Linked DNA regions of Homo sapiens. The protein of the gene in region 1 interacts with the protein of each later gene in a pairwise test. Each region holds a gene or a part of one and is shown in the gene's direction. Other genes may lie near its edges.

Region 1 (3,828 bases):
CCAAATGCCCATCAATGATAGACTGGATAAAGAAAATATGGCACATATACATCATGGAATACTATGCAGCCATAAAAAAGAATGAGTTCATGTCCTTTGCAGGGACATGGATGAGGCTTGAAACCATCATTCTCAGCAAACTAACACAGGGACAGAAAACTAAACACCGCATGTTCTCACACATAAGTGGGAGTTGAACAATGAGAACATATGGACACAGGGAGAGGAACATCACACACCAGGGCCTGTCAGGGGGTGGGGGGCTAGAGGAGGGAGAGCATTAGGAGAAATACCTAATGTAGATGACGGGTTGATGGGTGCAGCAAACCACCATGGCCCATGTATACCTATGTAACAAACCTGCACATTCTGCACATGTATCCCAGAACTCAAAGTATCAAAAAAGACAAAGTTTATAAAGATTTGCCCTATGGCAAGTGATGTCAGCCGTGTTTGGTGTCATGGTAGGTTTGATATGTTACTCATTTTTTTCTTTTACACTTTCAAATAAACTCATAGCAAACATTAATATATCCATAAATATTCATCTATGTTCCACCTAAAATTCTTATGTACTACTAGTGATAGACTACACTTTGAGACATACTGCTCAAATTAATTTAAAAATAATTTTCTTTCAGAGTACGGAAGAAACCAAAGGTGGAGGGCAGGGTAAAATATATTCTAGACTTATGGTTGAGACTGCCACTGATGTTGCTCATCTTAGTTAAGATGTTTAATTGTCGCTTTCATTTCAATGCCCATTGTAATGACCGAAAGATCTATAAAGGGTGAAAACCTGGAGAACCTAGAAAGTTTCCATCTGGCATCTATATGCCAGAAACTTGGAGGGTTCTCTGAAAGATAAAAACATGATGGAGAGAAATCACAGCAACTTGTGTTTCATGTCAAGCCAAGGGCAAGCCTGTCCAGCAGGGTCTGGAGGCTAGGGCACTCTGAGTTGGGGACTCTAAGTTGGGGGATCAATATTCTAGAGGAATTCCAGAGAGCACATAACTTGCTGAATATAACTTAGGATGGAGACTTGGGCCTCAGTGTGCTACTGTCAGCCAACACTTACTTCAGATGGTGTGCTGAATCGAGTGGCAACAAGGACAGCAAATTGACGAAGGGGAACACTGAGCAAACAAACAGCAATATGGAACTAAAGTCTTGTCAAGGTCCCTTCCATCTGTAGCTCCCTTCTCATGTCATGTAGGACAGAGGGTTCTCTGATCTGGCAAAATGTGCCTAGCAACATTAATCTCATTTCTTGTCCTTGTGCTGGAAGCACTCTCCCAGGCCCTTTGTTCAGCCAGCTACTTCTAGTCTTTTTTTTTTTTCCACTTAAATATCATCTCCTCAGAGAGACTGGCTCCCATTTAAAGTAGCCCCCCTCCTTTATTCTGTATCAGTATCCACTTTTCTTCATAGCACTCATTACAATTTGTAATTACTTAATTTGTTAGTGGTCTGTCTTCTCCACTGCATTGTAGTAAGCTCCATGAGGGCAGGGATCTTGTCTGACTTGTTCACTGATATATCCTCAAAACACAGAATATAGTGGGTGTTCAATAATGAGTAAGCATTAGTAGAAAACAAGCAGGACAAAATGGATTATGTTTAATATTGTCAAGGTGTAATATATAGTGAAGATAAAATTGTCATGATTGAATATGCACTATTGGAATATATGAAACAAATAGTTTTAGAAATTTAAGTAGAAATCGTCAAAACCACAATCATGGTGAGATACTTTAATATTTATCTTTTAGTCCTTGACAGAAAAATAAAGATACAGAGCATTTGCATAATATAATTTAGCTTGATTTAACATTTATAATAGAGTTCATTGTGAGAGTACACATTCAAATGTATGTGTATGGAAGTTGCTCTCATTAAAATGAGAAAGAAGATATTATCATTGATATAAAGGAGATTTAAATATTACAAGTGAATAGTCTTATGATTCCATGCTAATAATTGCTTTGTAAATAGATGATTTCCTAGCAAAATAAAAATAACAAAATTAACTGTGACCATGAAGAAGCAAAAGATAAAGAACTACCCCTCTCCAAAAAATGAAGACTCAGACTTTTTCTGGATGAGTTTTCCCAAACCTTTAATGGATCAAATCATTCCTATATTGTTTCATCTGTTTTAGTCTAGAAAAGCAACAGGAAGCTTCCTAGGTTATTTTATGAATGAAACAGGTATAACTCTTATGCCAAAATTTACAGATGTAGCACACAAAAGAAAACTGCAGACACACTTCACTTAGGAATGTTGAATCATGAATCCTATATAAAACATTAGCACTTGTGGACTTTGTTCAAGAATGCAAGAATATTTTAATATTGGCAAATATATTAATAACATTCAATAATTAATAGGCAGGGGGAAATATCATCATGGCAGTAAATATTAAAAGGATTTGATAGAATCCCAGTTCTATCCCTGATTCAAAATGAAACAAAATAACAACAGAAAATTTGTAGAAAACTAAAACTAGAGAAATACATCCTTAATTTAATAAAGGGTATCTATCTTACACCAGCAGCCAACATTATACTTCATTATGAAATATTAGCACATTCCCATTAAAGTCAGGAATGACTCAAGAACGCCCATTATTATGGTTATTAATCAACATAGTTTAAACATTTCTAGGCAATACAGTGAAAGAAGAAAAATAATTCAGGTGTTAATATTGTAAAGAAAGGAGACAAAGTCATCTATATTTAGTGATAATATTATTGTCTATCTGGAATGAAACTGAAGAACAATGAGAACTAACGAGAGTTAACTAAGGGAGGAAGAAAATATATGTATAAAAATCAATAGCTCTCTTACATACCATCAATCCACTAGAAAATGTGGTGAAATGGATTATGTTCACAAAACAACAAAATATATATGATGCCTGGGAATAAATGTACTAAGAAAAGTGCAGGGCCTATCTGAATACAATGATAAACCTTATTCAGGGACATAAAAAGAGACTTGAATGAACAGAGAAACAAAACTACTTAGGTGAAAAAATTTTGTAACATTATCAATTCTCTCCAAATGAGTCTACATTTAATTGAATTCATGCCTAGCACGTGGGACACACAATAAATGATTTTTGAATGAATGATAAATAAGTGAACATAATTACCATAAAATTTAGAATTTTTTTTGACTTGACAAAACGATTTTAAGGTTCATCTAAAAAATTCTCAGAGCTGAAAATAAAATTTGATAGTAGAGACAATGAAAGGATTACCAGATCAGTTATTAAAACATAATGACATAAGATAGGCCGGGTGCAGTGGCTTACGGAGGCCTAGACAGGTGGATCACGATACCAGCCTGGGAAACATGGTGAAACCCCGTCTCTACTAAAAATACAAAAATTAGTTGAGCGTGATGGTGCATGCCTGTAATCTCAGCTACTCGGGAGGCCAAGGCACAAGAATCACTTGAACCAGGAAGGCGGAGGTTGCAGTGAGCTGAGATTGCGCCATTGCACTCCAGCCTGGGCAACAGAGCGATACTCTGTCTCAAAAAAAAAATAAAAGAAAAGATAAAATAAACAATAACATTAGTATTGGCACATGAATAGATAGGTTGGTGGAACAGAATAGAAAGTCAAGAAGCAGATCTATGACTATAAGGATATAGTAAGGATTTAGAATGTGATGATGTTATCTTAAGTATAACAGAAAAGGATGGATTTAATAAAGGGCCTTATGACTGCTGGAAAAATCGTATCCCTACTCCACAACACACTCCAAAATATACTCCAGGTGTATTAAATATTTAAATTTAAAAAGTACAACCATG
Region 2 (3,828 bases), on another chromosome or scaffold:
TGCACTTTAGGCCAGGCATGGTGGCTCACACCTGTAATCCCAGCACTCTAGGAGGCCAAGGTGGAAGGATCCCTTCAGCTCAAGAGTTTGAGACCAGCCTGAGCAACATAGGGAGACCCTATCTCTACCAAAAAAAAAAAAAAAAATTAGCTGGGCATGATGACTCTCACCTGTTGTCCCAGCTGTTCAGGAGGCTGAAGTGGGAGGATTACTTAAGCTGGTGAGGTCGAGGCTGCAGGAGCCCCGATCGTGCCACTGCACTCCAGCCTGGACAACAGAATAAGATCCTGTCTTAAGAACAAACAAAACCAAAACATGGATGCACTCTTGTGTCAGCATCTCACCGCCTTTGGGGTTGATTTACTCATCTATAAAGGAATGAGGAGAATTTAGTGGCCACTCAGGCACTTGCTCAGCTCCCATTTATGACTCCCTGACCCCAAGAAGAGGAAGGGGAGCTTGCCTCTTTGTTTTCCTCCAGTTCTTATTCTTGGAAGACTGACAACACACACACTGCACTTCCACAAGATAAAGGGGAGCAACAGATGCCCTGCAAAGGACGTGTGCAGAGCACAGAAGGCAGATGGATTCCAGTGCTTTCTGGCCTCACTATTAAAGGTTGTGCTGGCTTCACCATGGCCTTCTGGTGGGTTTTGCTTCCTTTCACAGATGGGATCCCCAAATCCAGGGGCTTCTTCTTCCTTGTTATTTACTTATACTTGGACGATCTGGTCAGTTAGGGGCTCATTCATTATCCCACTTTTTTCTAATAAGGATGTCCCCACCCATTGCAGACTGGCTCTAGGTCATGTGGTCATGACTCCAAGTGGGAGGGAGTAGTTAGACTTTGGGACTTTGGACTTGCAGACATCACTACCTCAAGAGGAGAAGCTGAGAGATAGAATGGATTGGGAGCTCTTCCAGGTACCAGCATTTCTTTTGCAGAGGCTCTGGGACAGCCATTTCATGTAGGTTTCATCTCAACAGCCACTTCTGGTTGCTCAGTAGTGATGATCTTAGAGCACTGCATTGTAGAATGTCCTGATCTAGCATCCATTACTGATGTCTGCCATGGGGATCTGGAGTGTGAATGGGAGTGGTTTTAGGTCTGCACCTGCCACCCCTTCTTTGGATATACTCCAGTGCTCACTCTCCCTCAAGACCTACGTGAATGTTCACATGTGGCTTAAAGCCTCCCTTCCTCTTACTCTCTGCCTGCAGGATGTGCGACGTGTGCCTGGAGTAGCCCCGACTCTTGTACGGTCGGCATCTGAGACCAGTGAGAAACGCCCCTTCATGTGTGCTTACCCAGGCTGCAATAAGAGATATTTTAAGCTGTCCCACTTACAGATGCACAGCAGGAAGCACACTGGTAAGTGTGCCCGCTGTCCAGTCTTGGGCAAACATGGTTCAAGAGCTCCTTTTCCAGGCTCTCACACTGCTAAGGACCCAGGTTATTTCCAGGATGGAAAGTAAGCACTGCTTTGAAAGGTCTGATCCAGGTGTTGTAAAGAGGCTGTGGGGCCATTTTGCATTCTGATTATCTATCCTTTATTACAGAGGTCAGTAAACTGTCTTCCAGAAAGGCAGAGCAGAGTGGTAGAGAGAAAGTGCCACAGAATTAAAGAGACCTGTGTAGGAATCGTGTTGGTGTTAGAATACTATTAGCATTTCTAAGGAGAGAGGAGCTGGCCTGGGAATATAGTCATCAGATGGTTTTAGGAGGTCGATGGGCAAGATCATTGTGAAATTTTAGAAGAGATGGTCCAAAGAAAAACTTACCTGCTTGGGTCAGTAATAATCAACTAGACAGGAAGGGGAAAATTGATTGTTAGTTTGATTTTTTAGTGATCACTTAAAAAAAAAAGGTCAGTCATGGGGGCTCACGCCTGTAATCCCAGCACTTTGGGAGGCCGAAGTGGGTGGATCACCCAAGGTCAGGAGTTGGAGACCAGCCTGGCCAACAAGGTGAAACCCCGTCTCTACTAAAAATACAAAAATGAGCCGGGTGTGGTGGCACGCACCTGTACTTGGGAGGCTGGGGCAGGAGAATTGCTTGAACCTAGGAGGCAGAGGTTGCAGTGAGCTGAGATCTTACCACTGTACTCCAGCCTGGGCGACAGAGCAAGACTCTGCCAAAAAAAAAAAAAAGGAGAGAGAGAGATGATGATTTTTTATCTTTGAAGATACGCCAATGAAACTGGATTTTCCCCCAGGTCAGAGAGGCTGCTTCTGGGAAACAGAGAACTGGCATTGTTTGGTGTTGGCCACCTTGAATGTGGACAGCCATGTCACAGAACGTTTACTCTGGGCCTTGTGGGCACTAGGTGGGAGTGTGGGAGTGTGGTAAAACCCAGGTTTTCCTACAGAGGAGCTACTGCTGCCTTTTCCACAATCGAAGAACAGCATTATTATAGGATCACTGTTGCAACTGTGTTATTACTGCTGATTTTGCTCTTGGGAAGCTGGAGAAAAAAGTGAGCTGCATTCAGATTTCCTTGGACCATTGAAATTTGCTAATTCACTGTGTCCAGAGGATGCAATTCTGGTGTCAATCTGAGTTTGCACTCAGTGGGCCACAGACTTTGAGGCTAAAAAGGAGGGGACCAGTGGCATGTTATGTTTTTACACATTTCCCCAAATGGGATCATTTGAAAAGTGACTGTCAAGGTTATAAGGAAAACGAGAAAGTAAAGTCCTGCCTGAAAAATGCAAGGGAATAAATGAAGGCAATATGGTTGTAGAAACTTTTAGTGAGAGAGAAGCACTTAGAATGCAGTGAGGGTTAGACAACTGTGTGAAGGGAAGGCAGTGAACAAGACAGCCAAAACCCCAGACCCACTGGAGCCTTTAAGAAACTCTTCCTTGCAGAAGATGAGGGCAGGTTGGTATTTAACAATCCTACAGTCCCCCTTGAAAGAGAGCAATATTTTCTTATTTATTTATAACAACAGTACAGACTGTTATATTAAGTACTTTTTGGGTGTCAGGCTCTCTACATGTATATTTCATTTAATCCTCACTCACAAAACATTTATGAAGAGTATAGGATATAGCAGAAAGAGGACTCAAACTCCTTCTTTTTAACTGCAGGTTATAATCCTCCTTCTCAAAGAGTTCCTGGTTTGTTTGGGAGCTAGGATATAAAGAAATGAAAAGTGACTGAGAGAGTACATGATCATGTACTAAATCAGAGACAGGAGGTACCGAGGGGTTTGGAGGGTATCAGTTTGAACTAAGGTCATCCGAGAAAGTTTCTCAGAGGAAGAACAGCTTGGGTTAGCCAGTGGAGGCTGGTAGTTTGGGCAGAGAAAGTGATAGATGAGCAGAAGCTCAAAGGCAGGGGAAGGAAATCAGACTCAATAGGGGTAACATCTTCTCCAGCTCACAGAGGTGAAACATAAGGCACCAACCTGGATACAAATACAAAGAAAGGGGCCAGGTGCAGTGGCTCACACCTGTAATCCCAGTATGTTGGGAGGCGTAGGCGGGAGGATTGCTTAAGGGGTTCAAGACCAGCCTGGGCAATATAGTGAGACCCTGTCTCTAAAAAAAATATTTTTAAAAATTTAGCCAAGTGTGCTGGTGTATGCCTGTAGTCCCAGCTACTCAGGAGGCTGAGGTAGGAGGATTGCTTGTGCCCACGGTTTCGAGGCTGCAGTGAGCTAGGCTCACACCACTGCGCTTTAGTCTGGGCAACAGAGAGAGACTCTGTCTCTGAGAAAAAATAAAAATAAAAAGGCTCCAGCCCTTAGGATTTTCCAACCCATTGAAGAATTGTAGAATTGTAGACCCAGACACAGCTCACCACATTAGACAGCCTGGAAT

Evidence for each region.
Region 2: the proteins of FMR1NB (region 1) and WT1 interact in a two-hybrid assay, tested with the Homo sapiens proteins (one large-scale study listed by BioGRID and IntAct).

The regions. Positions count from the first base shown.
Region 1 is NC_000023.11:147,998,203-148,002,030, forward strand, and holds part of FMR1NB (FMR1 neighbor protein), read left to right. Parts: intron 1-3,828.
Region 2 is NC_000011.10:32,393,801-32,397,628, reverse strand, and holds part of WT1 (Wilms tumor protein), read left to right. Parts: intron 1-1,221; coding exon 1,222-1,372; intron 1,373-3,828. UniProt on the Homo sapiens protein: Transcription factor that plays an important role in cellular development and cell survival. Recognizes and binds to the DNA sequence 5'-GCG(T/G)GGGCG-3'. Regulates the expression of numerous target genes, including EPO.